Regions from separate parts of the Homo sapiens genome. Here all the other regions are linked to region 3. Evidence: fine-mapped expression QTL. A gene starts in region 3. Each other region holds a variant in brackets. All regions are shown on one strand. Distances are between the middles of the regions. Region 1 has its middle 250 kb from the start of CPHXL. Region 2 has its middle 220 kb from the start of CPHXL. Region 3 holds the start of CNTNAP4 (contactin associated protein family member 4).

Region 1 (8,697 bases), 300 kb before region 3:
CCCTTTTCATGGAGATGTAGCTGGTTTCATCGAGCTGATTTTATAACTGTTTCTCTCTTGGCTTTAAGTCTGAAGCCTTTATTGAAGTAGGACCAATGGACATTTAGTGGAAATCTCTGCCTCCATGCACAGTTCCTTCCTCTCACAGTGAGAGCCTGTAAAGAGTGTCGCTCACAGAGCCTCACATCCACACTCTCCCCACTGTACCCACCATCAGCCAGCAACTGTCAGGCAGGGGATATTCTGGGAAGAGGGATTTAAAAAGAAAGCACAGGGCTGGCAGTCTTCACAGATTCTTGTGAAGAAGTATCTCTGACATTCAGGGTGCACAGTCACTCCTGCTCATGGCCAGCTGGGTAGAAAATTGCCCTGGACACCATGCATGTGACTGAGAGTGAGGCAAACTTTTAAATGAATAACTAGGGAGAGGAGGATTGCGTTAGTTTAATTTCCTACTTTTCAATTTCCTCAGATTGGTCCTTCCTGATGAATCCTGTCTAGTAGTTACCAGTGGCCCCCCTAATTGAGACCAGTAAGAGCCCAGCCAAATAAGCATTTAAGGTTCCTTTCCTGTACCTGAGAATCACATAGCTTAGATTGTCACCTCTCAGGTGGCAGAACCCTAAATGTTCAATGCTGTATCATCTGCTGGCAGTTTCTAGTATTCTCCTCAAGTTTCCTACTGCCCCTAACACCCCATCTTGTTCTTTGTCTGTGTCTCTCTTTCTTATACATACACACACACACACACACACACACATCAAAGAGGCATATGCCTATAAAATGACCATCCCTGCATTTTAATCCCATGATACTTGAATCTTTAGCCATGTCTCCAGTCCATGGGTTGATGTCGTTGGCATTTCCCAAGACCAGATCCTCTTCTCATTTCCCTCTACCGTGAACCACTCTCTGGTTAGTGATCAAGTTTGCTTTTGATGACTGCAACATCTTTGGTCTTTACACTTAAGATGATATAATAATTAACTAGCTAAGCTTTCATCTGGCACACTCTGATCAATTCATCTTGCTGTTTATGCTTCTGGGCTGGATTTGAGTTTTGTTGCAAACCCAACATTTATTGGGGCCATTAAAAATAATTCTTGTCTTTTCCCTTTCTTCGTCTCACATTTATAAAGTGAATGTACATCCTATACAATTGAGGTTTCTAAAGTCTGCCTGTAAGGTGGAACTGGAATATAGTAAAATATTCCTCTTGAATATTCCCACAAATCACTCATAAGATACATACTATGGACATGAATAACCTCAGTAAGACCAACAAAGCCAAACAGCTTTTTCTACAGCGTTGATCCAATCACTGTGTCTTCACTTGACTATCAGATGAACTTTTGCCTTGCGTTTTGGCTTTATCTTATATGAAAATGTACACATTTAACCCCAGAATCATACTTGTGCGCTGAGATATTCACAATACTGGAGACAGAAGGGTTGACTGATAAAAACAGCACATTCTGTTCCTAGGGTTGTACTTCCACTGTGGCATGTGTTCATTGATAGGAGTGGAAAGTCGATAGTCAGTACTCGCTCTCTGTTCTTTTCCTCAAGCACCTACACTTGGATTTGCATAAGTCAAATGTACAAATGACAACATGCTAGTGTTCCTTTGCGCAGCTCAAAACTTACCCTCAGTAATTCACATGGCTGACCACGGCATTGGGAACCAATGGTGATAACAGTGACCACTAACTGTGCAAAGTATGATGCTTAGTGTTTTATATTGTAATCCTATTTAATCTGCAAATCTGCTCTGTGAGTTCTGCCTTATTAGTCCCATTTCCCGGATATCTATGTGTGGATAAAGTTTTAAAGAACCTTTCAATCTTTAGGGAAAAAAGTAAGCAAGAGACATCACTCACCTACTTTGATCCCACTGTGCATGTGTGTTTCTGTATTTGTGTGTGTGCATATCGAATGCAAACTGGCTTACAGGATGTAACATTTTAAAGAGCTAAAAGTTGAGAGAGCAGTAACTTTTTATTATACTTACAATGAAATGATTGAAGATTGGAAGGTTGGTAATTTTTTTCCAAGTCATACAGCTAGTTGAACTGAATAGTTTGAGTCACATTGCTTCCTACTCTTTTTAGAAGAGTAACTTTTGTTTCTAACTTGTTTTTTATTGTCTATTTTCTAGTTTTCTAGCTTTCTTATGAGCTAGAACTTCGGTAATGTCATTGCAAACTGCAAGGTATTGTTACGCTACATGATTTTTTCAAGCAGCTGATTGGCTTCTGGGTTTTTTTCTTTTGAGACGGCCTTGTATTTGCTGTCTCGAGATTTCCATTACAGAGAATTACCAATTTTTCTAGTATAATACAATTTACTATTGCAAAAAAGGGGCCTATTTCTCTGTTGGGGCTCTTGATACAACTTTAAGGTGTTTCCATCAATTGAGGGCTTAGTCTTAAGTCGCCTGGATGGGTGTGGTAACACTTTGTGTTATCTATTGGTCAGTCAGAGGCTTAATAGGAAATTTATCTCATTTCCACTTACTATGATATATTGCTTCTTCTGCTTTTAATTTTTATAATGCTTTTTATAATTTTTTATAATTTTATAATGCTTTTAATTTTAATTTTAATAATGCTCAGTGTAATTTCTGTTTTGGTGCTTTCTTTGATATCTTATGCTATATGGTTTTTGTTGCCTTTGTTTTGTTCGCTCATTCATAAACATTTTTAAGGCTTGAGGAATATATTTTTAGATATTTTAGCGTTGACTGTTGTAAGTCAAATTATGATCAAACATACTCACATAATTATAACTCTATATCTTTATTTACTGATGTTTAACTTGAAAAAGAAGTTATGTATGGCTGGGCGCGGTGGCTCACGCCTGTAATCCCAGCACTTTGGGAGGCCGAGGTGGGCGGATCACGAGGTCAGGAGATGGAGACCATCCTGGCTAACACGGTGAAACCCAATCTGTACTAAAAATACAAAAAAATTAGCCAAGCGTGGTGGCGGGCCCCTGTAGTCCCAGCTGCTGAGGAGGCTGAGGCAGGAGAATGGCGTGAACCCAGGAGGCGGAGCTTGCAGTGAGCCGAGATCGCGCCACTGCACTCCAGCCTGGGTAACAGAGCCAGATTCCGTCTCAAAAAAAAAAAAAAAAAAAAAAAAAAAAAAGAACTTATGTAACATAAATGATATGATGGTCTCTAGTTTATCAGTTTTGTGAGTAGACATGCCAAGGTTTGGTAAGAGATGCTAGCCAAACTGCAGACTAGCAGCCAGCTCTCTACTGGAATACTCTACACCAACAGAGTTAATTTTCATGACCTCTTACCACACACTTTTCAAATTTTTCTGAATATGTTGATTGCTATTAGGTCCAGACTCAAAAGTAGACAGTTTTTAATTGAATTGATTTTCAAATAATAGATACTTTTCTAAATCTGGTCAGTAAACAACCTGTAAGCCAACAGCAAAATTTTATATAAAACATTGACCGTTATGTACTTGTAGTGATTGATTTACATTCTGATTCTTTAAGTACTTAAAAATGCATGTTTACTTGTTAAAATAGCCACCAGGGGGGCATTTAACACAATGCAGCAATAGTGTACTAAATATAATAAATGAGAATGTGCCAGGAAGACGTTGCTAATAGAATAGCACCACAATCAGCTTTGCAGATGTGGATTACATATTACAGTGAGCTTTATGAAAGCAACTGGATATAGAAAACTGAAACTGGCTATACATTCAAAGGTACACCTGTATGTATGTATGAGCGTATGTGTGTATATATATGTATATACATGTATATGCATATATATTTAGAGCAAGAGGGTACATGGATGTTTATAGAACTGTATAATTATATGTTAATAATATTAGTAAAGAGTTGCTCAAAAAGACTGTAATGTTAGGCCTGGTGCAGTGGCTCACGCCTGTAATCCCAGCACTTTGGGAGGCCGAGGCGGGCAGATCACGAGGTCAGGAGATGGAGACCATCCTGGCTAACGTGGTGAAACCCCGTCTCTACTAAAAGTACAAAAAATTAGCCAGGCGTAGTGGCGGGCGCCTGCAGTCCCAGCTACTCTGGAGGCTGAGGCAGGAGAATGGCGTGAACCCGGGCGGCGGAGCTTGCAGTCAGCCGAGATTGCGCCACTGCACTCCAGCCTGGGTGACACAGCCAGACTCCGTCTCAAAAAAAAAAGAAAAAAAAAAAAAAGACTGTAATGTTTGCATAATCGAGGCAACTTGTTCAAGAAAATGAGTCTCAACCATAGTCAGAGGAAACTTCCTGAAGTTTGAAGGAAAGTGTTGCAATCAAATTTTGACAGAAAGCATCTCACTCTCTTTTCAATTATGCAATTATGCCAATCACTTTCCCTTGAATAGAGTGATTAAGTATAGAGCATAGTTCTCTCTGACATAGAAAGTCTGTATGTGTGTGTGTGTGTCTGAGATCCTTGTATTTTAATTAATGACACAAATCTGCAAAGAAAAGGTAAATAATAATCCCTTGATACTTTCTCCTAATGTTTAATGCTTTGTCATGA[C/T]GTGGCTCATTATAAGCCTTTGTTCTTTATGCCAGGCAGTAGTGGAACAATGATATTTTGTATTAGAGGACAACTGTTCTTTCTCCTACATCTTTCCATGATGCTATCACACGGCTTAGACCTTGTCCCTCAGCAGCTGATGGTCTGCCCTCTGAACCTAGCATCTATTCTGCAAAAGACATGATGTTTTTTTCCTGTGGACAAAAGTTCAGCCTTCAAGAAACTCACAGGAGAGACAAAAAAATTACAAAAAATATCTGTAATGATAAGCTAAATGGGGTTAAGTGAAACAATATTGAGAAAGCCCAAAAAAGAAATAAAAATTATACTGGGTCAGTAGAGAAAATCTTCATGGAATATTTGTGGTAAATCTTAAAGACGTGGTAAAATTTTATCCAAAGAGACACATAATGAATACGCAAGGAACTGAGACTACTAATGGGTGGAAACAGAAACAGCTGAGGGTAACTGCAAAGCGTTTGGTTTGGATGATGCCAAGGAGATGTGAAGAGGAGTTACGGGAGAATAAACTAGAAAATTAAGGCAGATCCATGTTGTTGACCTGGAACTAGTCTTTCTTAACTGGGGTTTCACAAAATAATTAAGCATTACATAAAATAAGTTGTGTGGTTATTTTCTTAACACTTCCGAAGTTGGTAACAACTATCAGCAATCTAGATGGATAGGAAGGAAGTTAATTTGTTACATACAATGAGTGTCCAGGGCATTTGGGTTTCATCGTCTCTGGGAACCCCAGTTGAGAAAGACTGGCCAAGACTCTAGATAATGACGAACTGTGGAAATATTTCAGTTAAAGTGTGACATATTGTGTTTGGGTTTTAGGAGAACTTAACAGCAACAGTATTTAGGAGAGTTTGAAGAATGTGAAATTAATGATTACTAGATCATTTAAACATGAAGGGTGATGACGGAAATGAAAATGGTAATCAAAAGAAGATGATGGATGCACAAGAATTACTAATTCACTCATTTAAAGCAAACATAGATTGGCTACCTACTGGATGTCAAATATTGTGGCTATTATGATAAGCAAAATAGACTTAGCCTTTAACCACTGAATGAGGCGTCAGGCATTAAGCAAAGAAGCGCAAATCCATGTAAATTCCCAACAGGGATAAATGCTATAAAAAGTTTCTTGTGCATATAACTCACATGACGTCCTCTACAGCCTGGTTTTATGTCCTGGAAGAAATGGATAACTATACCACACAATGAGGCTTTATTTGTATATGGTGAGTTTTGGATTTATTTTCTCATTAGTGGAAGACCAGCAGATATTTAAAATCAGGAACTAAGATTATGATAGCAATTTCCCTTTTTCTCTTCTTGATCATGGGATCTTTATTTCACTGATGGTGGGCTTACATTATAGTTACTACAAATTATAATCTTGTAGCCTCTGTCTGTCTAATGATCATTAAAAGCCATGGCTTTATTCTGCCATATTAATTCCTACTAAATAATGCTTTTATGAAAGTTGTAATGATTCTTCCATAAGGGTATAAACAAATATAAACAGGATTTTTTCTCCTTGTAGATTGTACATGCATAATTGCTGTATTTTATTGACACTGTCTACATCCTATGATTCACTATAATGAAGGCCCTACTCAGGCATGGGTGAATTTTCTTAAGTTGAAAAATGAGCAAAACTACAGCTGGAAACGAAATAAAAATAAGTGAATAGAAGCTAAAATGAAAGAAACATTTTTATTTTAATTTTTTTAACTTTTAAGTTCAGGGATACACATGCAGGTCTGTTACATAGGGAACCCCAACTGAGAAAGACTGGCCAAGACTCCAGATAATGAGGAACTTTGGAAAAGATTTAAGTTAAAGTGTGATGTATTATGTTTGGGTTTTAGGAGAACTTAACTGTAACGGGTTTGTTGTACAGATTATATCATTACCCAGGTATTAAGCCTGGTACCCTTTAGTTATTTTTCCTGATCCTTTCCCTCCTCCCACCCAGTGTCTGTTCTTCCCCTCTATGTTTCTACGAGTTTTCATAATTTAGCTCCCACTTATAAGTGAAAACATATGGTATTTGATTTTCTGTTCTTATGTTAGTTTGCTAAGGATAATGGCCTCTAGCTCCATCCGTGTCTCTGCAAAGGACATGATCTCATTCTTTTTTTATGACTGCATAGTATTCCATGGTGTATACGTACCATATTTTCTTTATCCAGTCTATCACTGATGGGCATTTAGGTTGATTCCATGTCTTGCTATTGTGAACAGTGTTGCAATAAACATAAGTGTGCATGTGTCAAAAGCTTAAATGGTTATTGTGAATCTGCTATTAAAGATGTCAGAAACGTTACTCATTCTTCAATCTATTTAGGTCCTAGGTGAGCATTTACATTAAAATTTAATACCAAGATAAGGGCCTCATTAAGAAGTTTCTGTTATTTCTCAGTTTTAAAAATTGAGATATCTATCATGACTTCTAAGAAGTTGAGGAATAATTTTGATAATAAAATATCATTACTTGCTTCCTTGGATTAGATGTCCACATTTTCTTCTCTTTGATCACACTGTATCCCTGCTCCATTCTGTTTGCTACTTCAAATACAGAACTTCTAAGTCATTATGATTAATTAGAGATTTCCTATTTCTTAGTATCAAGTTACTCGAGTCTCTGTATGATAGTCTGACACTGTGTGGACTAACCAAAGATGATAGATAGCCTTGCTTTGTCTTCACTAAGCAGACTATAGCATGAACAAGCTTTACAAAAATGAAATTCATTAGAAAGAACAATAAACATTCCCATCTCATACTTGCTGTTCATATTTTCTATTAAGGTATGAATGTCTTCTGGGAAGGATCAGCAAAGGAGGAATTTTTGAAAATATAAAAGTAAATGTGAAAATAAAACTGAAAATGTGTAGGTAGATCTAATCTTGATATGGGAAATAAGCCATAAGTTTAGCTTTCATGGTTGTAAATGTTGTAAAATAAACGCCCACAAAAGTCTAGACTAACAAGAAGGGATTTAGAAAAACAAATGGCTGCACTGCTTTTAGTAAATCACATTGAAAATGATAAAACTGCTGAAGAAAACGTAAACAGAAATCTGTAAAACTTTAACATTTATATGGGACTATGAGATTTAATTGAGTCCCAATACATGAAAGCTGTGTTATCCAATATGACAGCCACTAGCCATTTGTATTTAGTTCTTGTTGAGAACTGATGATCTTCTCCTGAGACTAATCTTCTGAGATAGGAGCACTGTCTTATATCCCTCTTGCTCATATACCCCACTCTCTGCCTGAGCTCTCTCCCTGACTAGCTGCTAGCAGAGTGCAAGGAATAGAATCAGAATCTCAGGAAGGGAAATTCCCTCAGGCTTTTACATCATTTGGTCCCATACTTTCTGTTAAAGCAAAGCACATGTTTTTAGAATCACTCACTTCATCCTTATGCAAATGTTAAAATTTTCCTTTTACTAACTTAGAAGGAGATTGGTAACAACAGTAGCCTCAGCTTTACCCTAATTCTCCAGAGGCATCGTGGAACATGTCTGATCTTTCTTCTATCCAACATTTCTGTAAATATTTAATGCAAATATAGTGAAACCAGGTAGTGGGTCATCTATTTTTAGTTGTAGATGGGGAGACATTATCAGACAGTGCCACTATACATGACCTATTCCTGCCTATTTTTAATGCATGTATGTAACCATAAGGTTAATGCATATGTGCAACCAACAAGGTTATTACTGTTATTTTCCAAGTTGAGCAGTTGACAGAGGAGCTTTTCACGATGGTTATAGGGCCTAACCTTATCCGGCTTCAGATTTGACTATAAAGTTGTTGTTCTTCACTATTCTACACTTGTTTCTATAAATTGCAAGCACATGAAATATTAACTATCTTATTCTGGGTAAGTTGTAGTATTATTTAAACAGTTTACCCTTCTGAAATGATGGATTTTTGGGTAGTGGAAATAACCACGATGACACCCCCCTGCAAATTATAGTGTTGGGGAAATTGTTTTAAATCAAGATTAAGAGGCAAGAAGCCGCATCTAGCATGGGACAGAGTGAGATGCTGGCTTGCCAGCATTTAAGAAAGGAAGTACCATGCAGACCTAGCACATTACTCGGATCCTCAGTTGAGTCTAAAAAGCATTTAATT
Region 2 (8,697 bases), 330 kb before region 3:
AGGATGATGGCTGGATCCTAGAAAGTGTGATGTCAATGTTATCTATGATTACAATCAGAGTTCAGAGTTGTTTTTTTTTGTTGTTTTTTTTTTTCTGGCCCATCAGATCAATTGCTAAATGGAGACAGGGGATTGGGTATTGTTTCCCAAGCATACCTACTTTGCATGGATTTTGATTGCTAGCCCAAAGAGGTCAAACTGCAAACAAAAATTGGGGCGAAGCAATTTATTTTGCCGGGGCAGTGAGCACTTTCAGAGCAATGAAAACTGATAAAGCTCCACTCCCTTAAATATGACCTTTGTCCTCCCTGCTTTGTTTTCTTTCTTGTGCTTGTCACCTTCTCACGTATCATCTATGACGTGCTGATTTATTTGTTTGCTTTCCATCTCCTGAGCTCTACGTAAAAAAGCAGGGATTTTTTACTTTCTTTCTTTTTTTTTTTATTATACTTTAAGTTTTAGGGTACATGTGCACATTGTGCAGGTTAGTTACATATGTATACATGTGCCATGCTGCTGCGCTGCACCCACTAACTCGTCATCTAGCATTAGGTATATCTCCCAATGCTATCCCTCCCCCCTCCCCCCACCCCACCACAGTCCCCAGAGTGTGATATTCCCCTTCCTGTGTCCATGTGATCTCATTGTTCAGTTCCTTTTTAACTTACTATTAGCACCTGGAAGAGTGCCTGACTCAGTCAAACTATGGGGAATAAATGATATTTCCTGGCACTTATTGTTCCTTTTCTTTGTTTCTTACCTTATTTCTTCAAATATTTTTTCATGAGAAAACATTATCAAAAAGAAGGCTGGACATTAATATGCTTCTCTGGACCTGTGGAGTTGTGCATAATGTCAGTTTCATTGAGACAAACCTCATCTATGAAATGGATGTTCAGAGAAGCCCGCTGATGGCAATTTCAGTTTTGTCTTTGGAAATCAATTGCGGAATTGACATACGGTCTTCTGAAAGTGATGGTACTTTACTTGCTGTTGGTTGTCCACTCTAGTTTCCCTGCCAGTCTATATGTGGGCTGCATTCCACTCCAGCTGCAAATTCTAATCACAGATTTTTGCTCAGCAATGCTTGCCAATGAGAGGCATTGAGAGCTATGCATTGTGGAAGTTGATACATGGCCCAGTCAATCTATGACTTATGAGACCTATTGCAAGTCCAAGGAACTGTATTGATTCTGCAGAATGGACTGGAAACTGACCTTCATCTCACAGAACCCTCCAACTTGCTCCTGGTCTGTTTATTCCCAATGGAGCACTTGCATCATGCAGCTTTGTTCCAAAATCATTAACTTTTATTTCCCTTTACATTCCATCATGATTTTTACCTTATGTATAAAGAGTGGACAAATAGAAGTCTTTATTTAGCACAAAAGCTCAGTCCTGTTTCAATGTCAGCTATTCAGAGGCAGTTAATTTTATCTTCTCTCACTGCATGGGTTTAGTACACAGATACTATTTCCTTGGAAATGCAGACATTGTGTCAAAATAATGTACATTTGATCCCTACACTACTTGTGCCAGCAGTTATTAATGATCATCCTTAGAGTATTGTATTACAAGTAGTCTTTTTAAAATGTTTCCCTCGTATCTTAATTAGATTAATCTTAATATTAAGACTGTTGCCTAATTTCTCATTGTGGTTGTACCAGCCAGCACATTATTGCATAGGGAGTTCAACAAATGATGGGCAAGGTGAGTTAAATATTCATTCCTGAGGCTGTTTGGGAAGGGACATCAACTGTCTGCCGCCCTCAGGTTTTCCTTTTATCTATAGAATGGATGAGAGGCTGCAATAGGGCTTTCCTCTTCAGCCATTCTCTTTGTTCTTGAGATGCAGGTGTGGACTGGACTTCAAGATACTACCTAGAAAACATAACCAGTTTCCCTATTAGGTTGTGATCCCTTCGTTGTGCCTTTGAATTCCGAGCATATTTTATTTCATCGGAGGATGGCCATTACATTCTAATAACTAAAATTATAGGATGTTCTGGCCAGAAGGAAGCTTATAATTCTTCTACCGGAGAATGTTCATTATGCAGATAAGTAACAAGGACTGAGAATTTCAGAACTTACTCCAGGCCACAGGGCCATCGGCTTATCTGAGATGAAAGTCCATGGCTTCTGAGCTTTCCCACAGTATTACAGCTTGGTTTGGAGGTAGCTACTCATTTTTCCTGGGCATTTATTTAAGGTAGAACATTTAATACAAGTCTGCCTTCTTTGTCAGGGGTGACTGCACCTGCAGTTGTTCCCACTGCAGCCTAATCAGGCAGGGAGGTCAGTCTGTGAGCGTGTGTCTGAAAAACACATACCGACTACTTTCTCGTGGCTGCTTTACTCAGAATTGTCACATCATTACCAGGTCTTTCCTGTTGCTATGTTCGGTTCACCTGAGGGGAGAAAATTGAACTGAACAATGGAAGATATGTGAACAATCAAAAAAAAATTAAATAAACATTTTTTCCCCTAAGGTGGAAAGGAAGGTGAAGGAGTCAAATAAAACCTCCTAAGAATAATGATTCCTTCAAAATGAATGTCATAGCCCTTGTCTTGACTTTGTTATGTCAATACTATTTTATCCATACTGCATGATCTGCAAAGCTGATGCTACATCCAAGGATGGGGAACTTCCCTTTGTTATCTGCCAATATAGCTACCAATTCTATAAGTGTGAATGGAATGGCAATACTTTTATTAGTAAGCAAGTATGTGATTTTATTATACAGTATGTCAAATAAAAACTGCCAGGGAGAAAAAAAAGGAAAGGTAATCTTGGTGACAGGTGAACACCTTAGTTATAGGAACATCTTAGTTTAAACACAGTTTCTGAGTTTGCAAGTTATATACTAAATAGCACCACCATATGGAGCAGATGTAGGCAAAGCCACAAACACTAAGAAAATGAGGTCACAATTGTGGAAATGAGACATTTCCCCCTTTTTCCATGCCCTTGGTTGTATGCAGATTGCTCCAACCTAAAGGGATACATATTGAACTCATTTTCTGTAATTTAACTGAATTACAATGTTCATTTTTATATATAGCTAGAAAGAACTCAGACATAAGAAAGGGTATCTATTAGCTCTTTCTTTTTTTTTGAGATGTAGCCTTGCTCTGTCACCCAGGCTGGAGTGAAATGGCACAATCTTGGCTCACTGCAACCTCTGCCTCCCAGGTTCAAGCGATTCTCCTGCCTCAGCCTCCCAAGTAGCTGGCACTACAGGTGCCCGCCATCACACCCAGCTAATTTTTGTATTTTTAGTAGAGACGGTGTTTCACCATGTTGGCCAGGCTTGTCTCGAACCCCTGACTTTATGATCCGCCCACCTTGGCCTCCCAAAGTCCTGGGATTACAGGTGTGAGCCACCAAGCCCGGCTTAGCTCTGTTTCTTAACATGAAAACAAAATCTTTGCATACAATTTTAATAGCAATTCAAGTGGTAGAAGAACAGGTAACAAATTGTTTATTTAAAACCTATTTTACTTTAAAGATGAATCTTCCATTCTCCTCTCCACTCCCTTCATAATGTTCATTCATTCATTCCTTCTTTCATTAAAATTATTTGGCATGAATTGAAGTTGTTTTTGAAGCACCTTTCCTGGAAGTAATCAACACAAAGAGTTATTGCTGTGTTCTCTCACTTTTTTTACTTTGTGACAAAATAGAAGCATAGAATTGGACCCTTTGAGGAGGATTGACAGCTGCAGGGGTGACAAGGGCTGATCTTCCTGGAGGAACAGGGACTAAGTCACACCATTCAGATGTCTGCCAAATTTGAGAGGCTAAAAAGACAGTACAGGGGAAAATGATAGCCCTTGTGGATTTACACTGATTTTCTGTGCATAATAATGGACAGAATTGTTTGCAGAGTGCTCTTTACTTTGGAGCAATCTGCATACAACCAGGGGAAAGGAGAGGAGAGAGTCTGAAAATGCTGCAGCAGTGAGATGCCCTATATGTAGACACAAAGTCCTTCTCGTAATTGTGTGGCAGGCAGAATAATGACTCTCCAAAGATGTTCACACCCTGATCCCTGGAACCTGTGAATAAGTTACCATCCATGGCAAAGGGAACTTTGAAGGTGTGATCAAGGGGATGCACCTTGAGTGAAGGAGAGAAGCCTGGATTACACAGGGGCATCTAATCTAATCACACCCAGCCTTAAAAGTGAAACACCTTTTCCTGGTTTTGTCATAAAGAGGTGCAATAAAAACAGGGGGAGAAATTCGAGGTGTGAGAGGGATTTGCTATTACTGTCTTTAGAGATGGAGGAAGGGGTAGACCAGCCAAGGAATGTGGGTATCCTACAGAGACTGGGAACAGCTTATAGCTGACTGCCAGTAAGGGAACGGAGATCTTAGTTCTACAACCTAAGGAAGTGAATTCCACCAACAACCTGTATGAGCAAGGAGAAATCTGTCCAGCCTCCGGAAAAGAACACAGCTCTTCCAAAACCTTTACTGTAGCCTGGTGAGACCTGCATAAGACTTCGGACCTACAAAACTGTAAGTCCCTTTATTTGCTGTGTAATTTGTTAGAGCAGCAATAGAAAATGGATACAAATGGTTACAGATCAAGAGACGTCTCATTTGGGTAGGTGGAATAAAGCAATGCTACATTTGCCCTTACATCTTGAAAACAAGCATTATTGACAATTTAGGCAAACATCCAGATTAAAATAA[T/C]GAATAAAAGGGCACATGTGCACAATAGCCAGAATTGTTATTTATTATCACAGAATGGAGCTTTTCATTTTCAGACAGGCCTAGGAGGTATGAGACACAGGCTTTTTGTTGAGGTGTTTTGAAAAATCATTTGCAAATTTTGATAGTGAATGATTCCTCTTCTTGTTTCTGGGTAAATGTCATATGTAAATATATTCATTGTAATCACTCAGACTTCTTGAGATACCTAGCAATTAGGTTAAGTTTGTACCAATTCCTTTGCTTTTTATCTCCATAGTTAATTGAATCTTCTACAAAACTTACTTTTAGTTCATTATTTCTCCTTCTCTTTGGTCTTCTTTCTGGGGATCCTGTGTATCTTCTAGTTTTACATTAAGATTTTGCATTGAAAGTCCTCCTGAATGTGCAAAATTGTAAGTGTACTCAGGCCTCACACACAGATGTAACGTAAGCACTCAGGGACATTCGTTCTGTCTGGCGGTGCCTGGATCATTGCTTAGGTTTAAGTTGTATTGTAATTTTACTTGTTCAAAATATGATTTCATTTTTTCCAGCATATAAATTACTTGAAGAGGCAGAATCTGAGAGTCAATAAAAGTTACACATACACAGATAGGTCTAGTGTGGTCCGTCCTGTATTGATACAGGCTCTTTAATAGGCACAAGCTGTTGTGTTTGTGCCTGTGTGTTGTGTTGTGTACAAGTGAGACAGACCCATTCTTCCTTAGGCTCAGGCCACATGATTTTAGGTCTGTTGGGGACTGAATTGTGTCTGCCATCCCCCAACTCATATGTTAAAGCCCTAATCTCTGACTGCTTCTGGAAACAGGGTCTATAAGAAGGTAACTGAGCTTAAGTGAGGCCAGAAGCAGGTGGTCCTAATCCTGTAGGTCTGGTTTCCTTATAAGAAGAGGAAGAGACAAGAGAGAGCCCTCTCATTCTCTCTTCATACTCACAAAAGAAAGACAATGTGAGAAAACAGTGAGAACGTGGCTATCTGCAAGCCACAAAGAGAAGTCTCATCAGAAATTGAATTTACCAGCACCTTGATCATGTACCTCTGGCTTCCAGAACTGCGAGAAAATAAATATCTGTTGTTTGAGCCACGCAGTCTTAAATGTAGTATTTCGTTATGGCAATCCTATCAGACTAATATGAAGCCACTTCCAGGAGTTTTTATTTCATCCTAGGAAGCCCTTGATGCAAATTAAGCTTGGGACAGGTGGCACCATCCAATTTACATTTGAAAGCAAACATTTCTGGCTGTTGTATAAAATATGACTTAAAAGTGGGGACTAGAATGAAAGTGGAAAATCAGCTGAGAAGATACTATTGTGTTTTGTGTAAGAGACAATGGCATTTTTCAATATTTGTGTGAAGCAAAAATTACAACTCTAAATTTTTCAGTTTATAAAGTATGAAGATGGAATATGTATCACAAAAACCTCACAAAGAGTAGTGATTTGAGGTTAGTAGACATATACTATTGAACATTCATGCATTTCCTGTGAGATGGTGTAATATTAACATTATAATTAAAATTTTATTATTCATAATGTAACCTCTAAGTTATTATGAAAAAGATGCAAAGATACATAGCAAAAATGCCAATAAAGGAAATTAAAAGAAGTACCAAAAATATTTGATTAACTCAAAATGAGGCAGAAGAGACAGAGAAGAGAGAAACAGATGGGACAATTAGAAATCAAATAGTAAAATGATAAGCCAAAATCAAACTTAGGCTAACGTTATATTTAATGTAAATGAGGTGAATATGCCAGTTGAAACATTAGAATTATCAGATAGTAGGAAAAAAGGAAGATCTAATTAAATACTGTCTACAGAGACATTCTGTTATAATTAAATCAGAGGAAGAGTGATAACAAAAGGATGAAAAAATGATACACCATGCAAACAATAAACATGAAAAAGAACAGCTATATTAACATCAGACAAGGTAAACCTCAAGACAAGGAAGAATGCTATAGATAAAGAGGGATGTTTTTAAATGAAGAATTCTATTCATTACAAAGACATAATAATAATTAATATATATGTGCCTAACTCTAGAACTTCAGATTCTATGAAGCAAAAATAGAATTACAAAGAAAATAGAAAATTACACATAGAAATATTCACATGTCCTCTCAGCAATTTATAACAACAACTACATTAAAATATTGGTCAAAGAGTAGAAGTTATGATTAGCACTATCAACCTCCTTGATCTTACTGACATTTATAAAGCATGACATCCTATAACTAGAATACATATTATTTTCAAGTGACATGGAGCTTTCAAGAGATAGATGGTGAGCCATAAAACAAATCTCAAGGAGAATAAATTGATACTTCCATATAGTTTCCAAAATTGTTGTATCTATTAAAGCTAAACTTATGCCTACCCTATGTTCCAACAAACCCGTTCATAGGTATACACCACAGAGAACTGAGTTCCCCCAAAGATGAGTACAAATTATCTACAGCAGTTTTATTCATTACACCTTAAATCTAGAAAGTCTAACAGGAGAATAGACACATTGTGGTATATTCATATAAGGGAATATAACACAGAAGAATAAACTGTTTGCTGTGCAGAACAAAATGGAAGAATCTCACAAATACAATAATGTGCTCAGGAGTGCAGTCATGAATCTGGTCATCCTGTATGACTCCATTTATATGAAGTTCAAGAACAGCCAAAACTAATCAACAGTAATTGAGGGAAGAAGACTGAAGAGTTACTAATTCTTGGAGTAGAAAACATTGTCTAGGAAGGGCACAAAGGATCATTCTCCATGATGACAATTTACATGTTATATGGGTGATTGCAGCACTTAACTTAAATGTAAGTTAAGTCCCAATCAAAGCAACTGACTGTTCAGGTAACAAACACTTGGTTTCAGAGGCTCAGCCTTTGCCCAACACCACCAACTTTATAAACAAGATATGTCATAAGAACCTTGATTTTCCAGTCAACATTTTTAGGAGCTCCCAAATGATCCAAAAGTAGAATTGGATATCATTTCCTTCCCAAATTCATTATTTCCAAATCTGATGACTTGAAATGTGTGATCCTTTAGACAGGAGTTTGCAAACAGGTGAGCTTTGTACCAACCATATAAAGAAAATTTCTAGAGCAAATTATTGATTCAGTCAATCCTGCAATGAGAATATTGAATGACTTAAAAATATAAATGATTTTGAACTCTTTGGAAGCAATTACCAGAAACTGATGTGCTAATGGTATGTTATACCAGTGTGGTTTTAGATGGGCAAAACTTTTGGGCTAGTTGAAGTTATTTTGAAGTTGTGAAAAAAAAAAGTTGTTTTTCTTTGACAGCACTTCCTACTTCTCACACATTTCCTTCCATTAGCCGCCCCTTCCTTTCTTCCCTCCCTGTTATTCCAGGTATGCCTAGTAGGAGGCACCTCTTTCACAGTAGCCTAGACAAGCTTGGGCATCTCTGCATGGAAACTTTTGATAGAAAGAGAGTTACAGATTGTAAGTTTTTTTAGTTGCCACAGCTGTAGGGACATTAAAGATGTCTTGTATACATAGACATGTGTTAGCTGAGCCAGTGGAAAGTGCTGGAGTTGGACCTGACTTTAAACAGAGGCTCTAGTACTTGGTAGTTACGCAATGTTGGGCAAGTTACTAAAACTCTGAGCCTCAGTTTCCTTATCTGTAAAATGTAATTGATAATCATTGGCTTATAGGGTCATTGTGCTATGGTTATTGTGATAGGACTACATAGAATGATGTCGGGCATATCATAGGAGCTCAATAAATGATGGTATTATTACTTTATGATGATAATCCTGCTGCTATTGCTGCTGCTGATATTACACTTAGTGGAATTCTGTCCTCCTTCCTTCATAAATACAGGCAGAAACATAAGTACACAGTTAAGCACAATTAAATGAATTCTTTTGTTACAGTTATGCACAATTAAACGAATTCTTTTGTTTCTTTCTGAATAATGGGGCTTATCAA
Region 3 (8,697 bases):
TTGGTAAAAATGTAAAATGATTCAGCTGCTATAAAAAATAGTATAAAGGTTCCTCAAACTTTAAAAATGAATGATTATGTGATCCAGCAATCCCACTTCTGGATATGTATCCAAAATAATTCAAAGCATTATCTTAAAGGAATACTTGCACACTCATGTTCTTTGTAGCATTACTCACTATGGTCAAAAGGTGGAAGAATTCCAAATGTCCACTGAGAGATGAGTGAATAAAGAAAATACAGTGTATACATATAATGGAATACTGTGCAGCCTTAAAAAGAGGGAAACCCGGTCACATCCTACAATATGGATGAACATTGAGGACACCATGCTAAGCGAAATCAGTCAGTCACAAAATGACAAATACCATATAATTCCACTCATATGAAGCATCTGAAGTAGTCAAAATCAGAAACATAAAGTAGAAAGGTGGTTGCCAATGGCTGCAGGAGGGGAGGGAAGAGAGGGATTTAATGTTTAATGGGTATAGAGTTTCAGTTCTAGAGATTTGTTGGATCACAATGTGAATATTCTTATCACTACTGAACTATACTTAAAAATGATTATGATGGTAAATTTAATGTTGTATTTTTTTTAACTACAATAAAAATGAAGGTAAAAGCACAATGTCTAAAAAGTATCCATTTCATTTGGAAGATATAAAGACAAATCAAACAATGTAAAAGAAATGAAATGATTACCCAGATTTGAAATGAAAAGATTCCTATAATAGAAATGTAGGGTAAAATAACTGTTAGATGAATAAATGAAACAAAAACATTGTATGTTAATTTCTTTCTAGTCTTTCAATGTAATATAGTTCCACTCTTGCCTTCTGGCCCTTTTCTAGTCTAAACTATAGTTTAGGATCCTCCATGGACCACTGTGGTGGGATATACAGTTCTCTGGCAAGTTGTAACAAGAAAATAATTCAAAGCCTGATTTTAAGAATTTCAACATTTTGATCTGATTTACATGGCTTTTGCCAGGCAGGGTGTAACCTATAGTATGGACGTGGGAGACCTTAAACACCAGGGTCTTTTCTTAATTGGTGGAAAACATAACCAAAATACAGACACAGGGAGAAGTGATTAAAGGAATCTGAATCAGCAGTACAGGTGTGCAAAATTAGATCTCCACACTTTTCTGACTTTTCCTTCGATTTTCTGATGTTAAACACCATCCTGGAGGGAATGGAGAAATGATGCATAAGTTAGTAGGTCTTGGAGATGAACCCTTTTCTGCCACCAGTGGGTCATATCCCACAAGCTGTAATCCCTCTGCTCATCAGATTTCTTTTCTGTGTCGTGTGAGTTGTACTAATATAATGATTACAAAAGGAATATTGATCATGCGCCTCCTAGGCATGCTCATTTCACAGGACATTGTCTTAACCATGAGGTTGATACCGTACTCATCGTTGGTGCACAGATGAGGAAATTAAGGATCAAGGATTATTATCCTGATGCAGCTTGCCCAAGGCCGTGCAGCTAGTGGGTGGTGGAACCTGTACAGACACTGAACCTGGGTGGCCAAGCTCTGACATTGCCTGCTTAGACCAATTCTCTGTACAGTTTTAATGCAGAGATCTAAAGCTGGGAAGTAAGTGAGGGCCCACTAAGCACAAGGCATTCAATAGTTGTCATATGTTATACCACAGTAACTCTTTGGTCATGATTCTCCTATCGGGTCATAAAATAAATAAACGAAAGGTCAGCATCATTGAGTCATTTAATCAAAACAACAGTGGAAGCTTGTATCAAGGCCGCTCTGGTTTTTTTGTTTTGTTTTGTTTTGTTTTTTTTTTTTTTTGAGTCAGAGTCTTGTTCTGTCGCCCAGGCTGGAGTGCAGTGGCTCGATCTCAGCTCACTGCAAGCTCCGCCTCCTGGGTTCATGCCATTCTCCTGCCTCAGCCTCCCACGTAGCTGGGACTACAGGCGCCTGCCGCCATGCCTGGCTAATTTTTTGTATTTTTAGTAGAGACGGGGTTTCACCATGTTAGCCAGGATGGTCTCGATCTCCTGACCTCGTGATCTGCCCGCTTCGGCCTCCAAAAGGGCTGGGATAACAGGCGTGGGCCACCGCGCCCGGCTGAGGCCTCTCTGTTTACCATATCTCAAGCACTCACTGTTTCATTTGTCTAGGCAACTCTCTACCCCTCTGCAGCCATCAGGCAGAGACAGGTTTTGCAGTGACTTGAAATGCTCAGGTCTTCTATTGAGGGCCAGCCCCCAATTCCTTCTATTACTGTAGCCCATTGATATGGAAAAATCCGCCAGTATTGGTCACTATAATAATTTATACATTGTCCCAAAGAAGTTATTATTGTTATAAAATGTTTATTTTTCATTTTTGCTATGTGTACTTATCCATTTAAGATGCATTCTCTAATTTGTTTTAAGAGAACAATTAAATACAATATTGTAACAACGAGACAACTTTTTTCTTCTGGAGAGCCCACAACCGTCCCACAGACATGATATTTTCTTCAAAGGACTGATATAATTATTCAATTAGATAACAAATGGCATATAGTATGTGTTCAGTAAAATTTAATCTCCTTCAATAATTAGTTAACATAAACTGTTAATTTATATCTGCTTTTACTTAGCATATGATTGAAAAAATAAAATCAGGAATGCAAGTCTAGGAACACAGAATAAACACTCAACCCATGACCTTTCTTTATTTTATTGTATTTATCCTTTTTTTTTTTTTTTTTTTTTTTGAGACAGAGTCTCGCTCTATTGGCCAGGCTGGAGTGCAGTGGTGTAATCTTGGTTCACTGCAACCTCTGCCTCCCGGGTTCAAGCGAATTCCTGCCTCAGCCTCCCAAGTAGTTGGGATTACAGTTGCCTGCGACCACACCCTGCTATTTTTTTTATTTTTAGTAGAGATGGGATCTCACCATGTTGGCCAGGCTGGTCTCGAACTCCTGACCTCAAGTGATTTGCCCACCTTGGCCTCCCAAAGTGTTTGCTGTGTTTTCCTAGGGCCTAAGGTTTTTGCTGCCACTGACAAGGGTCAGGAAGGAGGTATACTCTGATTTAGGGGCAATAAGTCCTAGGGTGAGAGCAGTAAAACTGGAGTCAGAAAAGCCAAATCCAGTCCTCAGCATTTATTACTAACTCTATGACCTCTTCGAATCATTTAAATTCTCTGTTCTTGTTTTCTCTTGTAAAACAGGAAAAGAAAAAAGATGCATTCTGCTTTGTTTGCAGGCATGAGCTAAACAAGCATGTTTAGTTCTTACGGGTATTTCTGTCATTTTCTCACTCTTTGACAAACCTATCTGATCTTTGACAAACCCACTCTCATTATTCCATAAGAAAGTGGTGTTAAAGGCTTATGTTTCTTCCAATTTGTGATTACCAAGAGGCACTTAAGAACTCCAGGATTTCCATTTGTATAAAATCTAGCACATTATCAGTAAAACATCTTGACATTTATTTTAAATAGATTATTTATCTGCTATGAACCATGTGACATGCTTCTTGTTATGTGATAGTAACTCCATTATTTAGACATTTTAAAATTCCATTCAAGAAACAGTTGTATCCATGGACCAGCCATTCAAAGAGTAATTTTTCTTTAATCATTGATCTTCCAAATTCAACTTTACTCCTCTCTCCTTTAAGTCACCTGAATTACATCGTCACATTGTTCAGTGTTTGTGTGAATGTGTATGCATGTGTGTATGTGGTGGTGGTGGAGGTCCCTTTCTTCAGTATTCCCTCATTTCCTACTTTGGGCCTTTTTGGAAATGTTATTAAAAATTTTGATTATAGAATGGTACTTCATATTCACAGCATGATGCATTCATCAACATAAATCTAGCCAAAGCATTTCATTTGTGGATTTATACACCTGAAGCATTAAAATAAGAAATGTTAATTTCTTGCAGACTACTACCAGATGATTTTAAATATCTGCTAAGCAGGAATGTCTGTTCCCATGTGGGGAATTTCCATAATAAAATCCTGGCACCCTCGCTGAAGAGTACAGTTTTATAGAAACAGAGAAAAACAACAGCAAGTATTTTCCCTGAGGACGGTTTTAGCTACAATTTCCCAATGCTGCTTAGTTATTTCTGTCTTATTTTATGCTTTTGTTTTGAAACATAATGCAATTTTACCTGGATGCACTCCCGGATAATCAGGAATGGCTCAGTGTGTTTTCTGGCTCTTGCAAATGCAAGACCTCCAGAAAATCAGAAGGCTCCACCGCCTTGTCCCTTCCCCCACTCACACCTCCAGCTGGGAGAAAAGGGTTAAGGATTATTGGAAAATAGAAGAGAAGGGAGGGAGCCCCAAGGAGGCCCACGAACGGGAGGCCGCGCCTCTGGGTGCAGCGGAGCTCGAGCGCTGTTGTGTGTTTGGAAGGAAGGATGCTGCTGCCAATTTGTGGGACCGCTGCTGCGAGGAGTGGGCGTGGCCTCGGCGGTGTGGATGCTTGTTAGGAAAGATGCTGAGTGCTTTTCAGTGAGGAGTCAGGGAGGTGTGTGTGAGAGAGAGAGAGAAAAGAGAGAGACAGAGACGGGGAGAGAGAGAGGGAGAGAGAAGAGAGGGAGGAGGGAAGAAGAAAAGACGGAGGGAGGTGAGGAGGAAGGGAGGGGGAGAGACAGAGACCTAGAGGGGCTGAAGACCCAGACAGAGCTGGCAGAGCTACTGAGAAGAGGACTGGAGCGCTCTGAGAGCCTCTCAAGATCTTTTGGGGGAGCCCAATAAATGTGAACATGGGATCTGTCACGGGAGCTGTCCTCAAGACGCTACTTCTGTTATCTACTCAAAATTGGAACAGAGTCGAAGCTGGGAATTCCTGTAAGTATACAGCAAATGATTTAAAACTTGCTGGGGGGCTCTCTGCAAAACTTTGATTCTGTTGGTTTGATGATGATTATTTGCAGCTGGGATTGCTGCAAAGCGTATTGCTGTAAACCAAGCATCACTTAAAAATCTTGCCAATGTGACCGGTTAACACTTGTCTCTCCTCTTGGTCTGGTCAAAATAGGCAAAGTGTCATTTCTCTTTTTGTCTACTCGCAGAATCTTACCCTCTGGTCTTTGAGTATTCATTGAGAATGCCCAAGTTCTAGTAAAACATGAAATTAGCATCTTATCGGGGGAATAGCCTGTGAATATCTTCATTTCTTCTTTTTTAAAGAACTACTGAATTTTATTGGAATTATGTCTAAGAGGAAAACAACTGGCAGACTTTACATTATGCTGCATTGGCTTAGATTTCTGAAGTTTGCAATTGGGCAGACCAGTAGCTGCCTGCATCTTTAAAATAATGCAGGCTAATAACTGAAATGTACTGCAGGCTTCAGGAGCACCAGCACTGGCTGAGGCGAGTCTCAGTATTAAGAGCTGTGCCCTCGCTGCTAAGAGAATGAGACTTAGCGCTCTCCGGAAAGAGGAGCCTCTTCCTACATTTCGCTTAAAGGAAAACCAGTCAGGTGGTCTTTCAAAAGTAGGATTCCTTTGTGGTTGAATGCTTAACTGCATAAATTTGTAATTGAATGTTCTGATGAAATAGAACCTATTTAGGGAAGATTGAAATCTTATTTATAATTTAGATATCATCCATAATAATTTGGCAGACTCCCTTCATCCACTCTTTATTAGAGATAGAAAAAGTTTTAAAAGTTATCTTTGGCTTAAATTCTCTAAATGGGAGAATTTTCCCCTCCTGATTAATGACAAACAAGCTTGGCAAATACAACTTTTTATTTTTTCTTGGATTTTAAAGGAAAAGCTCATTTGCTTTCCAAGAACTGGCTATGAGGCCTGTCCAGGAATTTATGTTGCTGCTGTATCATCAGGCTTAGATTTGGGGAACAGAGGCAGTAATCAGACATTTGCTATGGCATATCACTTGACTATGTTAAGAGTTCTGATATGTGAAAAACATGACAAACTCATGGGCACAAGTCAAATGTCCCCTCACAGTACCTGGCTCCCGTGATTTCGTGTTTCAGTTCAGAATGGGCTCATTTAATGTCACAGGGTATCCATCACTCTGAAAGAAGGAACCTCACTTCAGGTGCTGCACATCAGATTCAACTTTAGTTTGAGTGTTGTGATAATCTCATAAGTCAATAAAATGTATAATTTCACCTAGTCAAAACCTTGGAATCTTATAATGGTAGCATTAGAAAAACATTGCATCATACAAGCAAACAATAACAACAACACCCACACACAAATGGAAGTTCTGTAGAAAAGGCATAAGTAATTCATCTTCCAACCACTAAAGTTCAACCAAAAAGAAAAGCACTAGAGGTCACTCTTACAATGTAAAGCACATCACCCCAAGCATCCTTCCCTCAAGAAAAGCAGAGCTTAAATCTGGCCTGTACTCCATTCAGTCTTTCCACTAGACTGCCTGTAGTTGGGTTTAAAATACATTAATCTAATTATTTGGGCTGCTAGTTGTTTATGTTTGCTTGTTTTCTTGAAGCTCAATAAAAAGTGTAGGGTGTACATCAACATTAAATAGCTTTCTTTTGCCATATATCTTCTTAGAAAAGAAAAGGTGCTGAAAGAGATCTGAGGAGAGTGTAATATTTATGTCTGCTTGGCTCTGGTTGGATCCCTCACTGACACTTAAAATTTCAGTGCTGGTTCTATATTCTTTCAGCCTTGGTTTGTTAAGGAAGTAGTCTAATGCTCTTTTAAACATCTGATGAACTTGCAAAACCTATACGATTTTTCATTATAAAAAACATTTAAAGTTGGAGTTCTTGCTTACCATGCATGTGGAGTTGACTGTTCTTCAAGTGTCAAAAATAAAATGAAATGACCTTATATAATTAAAGTTGCACTCAGTAATTTATTGTGAATATTTTGACAATATGATTTGCAGCAGTATGTGTAAAAGAAAATATTTCATTTCTCAATTTCTATTTCATTTTTCAATATTTAAGAAGTATTTTCTTTTTGGAAGAAGTAAGGTCTACTTGTACCAAGCCATGGTGGAAAGTACTTCATATGTTTCATCCTTTTTGGAAGGACAAGTGTATATATATTTCCCAGCAAGACTGGAATTTAGTGTAAGGACAAGCAACTATCAACCAGCATATGCATTTCTAAAGTATTATAATGACTCCAATAATTCTTCTGGACAAGACTTTATATTAAGAAAAAGTGAGTCAGTCTTGACTACCAATAGTAATATTGGAAATAACTGAATATAAATAAATAAAATTAAAGGACTAGAAAGACTTTTCCCCTTTATTTACAGCTGATGAGCCAGGAGCAAATCTGTCATCTACAGAGTCAGCCCAAGGTTGCCAGTTTGAAAGCTTTCATGGGACAGAACTCTGCAAAACCAGTACAGCTCAGGGATTAGGTGCACTTTAATTTGAATGTTAATTGATCCAATTAAACAGCAGGGAAACTTTACATTAGAAGGATTCTGTTCAAAGACAAACATATATGTTCACATATATGTATATGTGCTCATTTGTATATAGGTATATGTGTATGTAGATATCTAAACTACTAGACTCGTGCTCATTTGTATATACGTATATGTGTATGTAGATATCTGTAAACTACTAGACTCATGTGCTTGCATATTTTTGGTGGCCCTGTTAAGTACTTATCTGTCTAAAGATGAAATATGTTGAATGAACCACGCTCCCTGCCTACTAGTATCCTGTCTGACATTTCAAAAGCAGTGGACTAGCCATAATTTTTTTCTCTTTGTTCTCATCAAGATGAGCTTTTACAATTATATTGAAGTGTCCCTTCCATCAAAGTTTAGAGACGGATCCTTGCAGATGGGTGTGCTCTTTGAGAAGCTGCACTGGCTGTTCTTGGTTTCTTTGCTTGCTACTAAGAGACATGCATTAAGAACAGAGACATTTCTCTATTTTTTAATAGCTCTTATAAATCCAGTTTTTGAACATTAAGACATGGTTGAAGATGGGGTCAACTTACCCCAAAAGAAGGAATGGGTACAGTAGTAAGGCTGATAAGAGTTTGCTTTTATTTTAACTCTTGCAGATTATGTGAGGGAGGCTCTCTAGTTACTGGTATACTGAGCCGTACTCTTGAGAATAATTAATGCTCCCCAATGACTTAATTAGAAGTTAACATCTCACTGTGTTCTTTCTTTTCTCTGATGGAAATAAAGGCCGTATCTGATACCTACCCTAAAAGAAGCACTGAAGGATAGATGAAGGCAAATTGCCTAAGTAGATGATCACTCTTGTGGGTCCTGGGAGACAGCTGGACAGATTCTCACATTGTTAAAACTCAACCTTGTAATTCTTTCTAGAAGCTACTTTCTTTTCCTCCCCCCACCATATTTACTCCTATAGCAGAAAATAACTAGAATGCAATAGTAAAGTACTGATAAAATATAATTCTATGAGGCAATGCATAAATGGCTAGCCCCTATAAAGATCAGCACGTACTTTGACTCACTTTTCTAATAGCAATGGTGATTTATTTTCATCTATTCAGTCCATTTTCTCCACTTCTTATTACATGCATCTCAATAATCTCTGATAAAGGCAGCCTCTAGCTCTGGAGATAACGTGACTCATGGGCCAACATGGGGATCAAACATAACTTTCACATAATACCTGGTGCTTACTCTAGGAAATAAAGATTATTGTCTTGTAAAATTAATTTTGGAATTTATATCATATGTAAGCAATTTCTGTATTGGAGCTAATGAGTATATC

Evidence for each region.
Region 1: its variant is fine-mapped to the expression of CNTNAP4 in putamen (GTEx, PIP above 0.99). The same link has a PIP of 0.9 or more in prefrontal cortex.
Region 2: its variant is fine-mapped to the expression of CNTNAP4 in hippocampus (GTEx, PIP above 0.99). The same link has a PIP of 0.9 or more in caudate and substantia nigra.

The regions. Positions count from the first base shown.
Region 1 is chr16:75,972,169-75,980,865 of GRCh38, forward strand. No RefSeq gene overlaps it. Among named protein-coding and RNA genes, the nearest start is that of CPHXL, 250 kb to the left of the region's middle. The variant C/T (reference allele first, on the strand shown) is at 4,532.
Region 2 is chr16:75,943,987-75,952,683 of GRCh38, forward strand. No RefSeq gene overlaps it. Among named protein-coding and RNA genes, the nearest start is that of CPHXL, 220 kb to the left of the region's middle. The variant T/C (reference allele first, on the strand shown) is at 4,702.
Region 3 is chr16:76,272,928-76,281,624 of GRCh38, forward strand. CNTNAP4 (contactin associated protein family member 4) reads left to right here and starts at 4,474. Exons shown (of 24, transcript NM_033401.5): 1 at 4,474-4,820. The coding sequence starts at 4,736.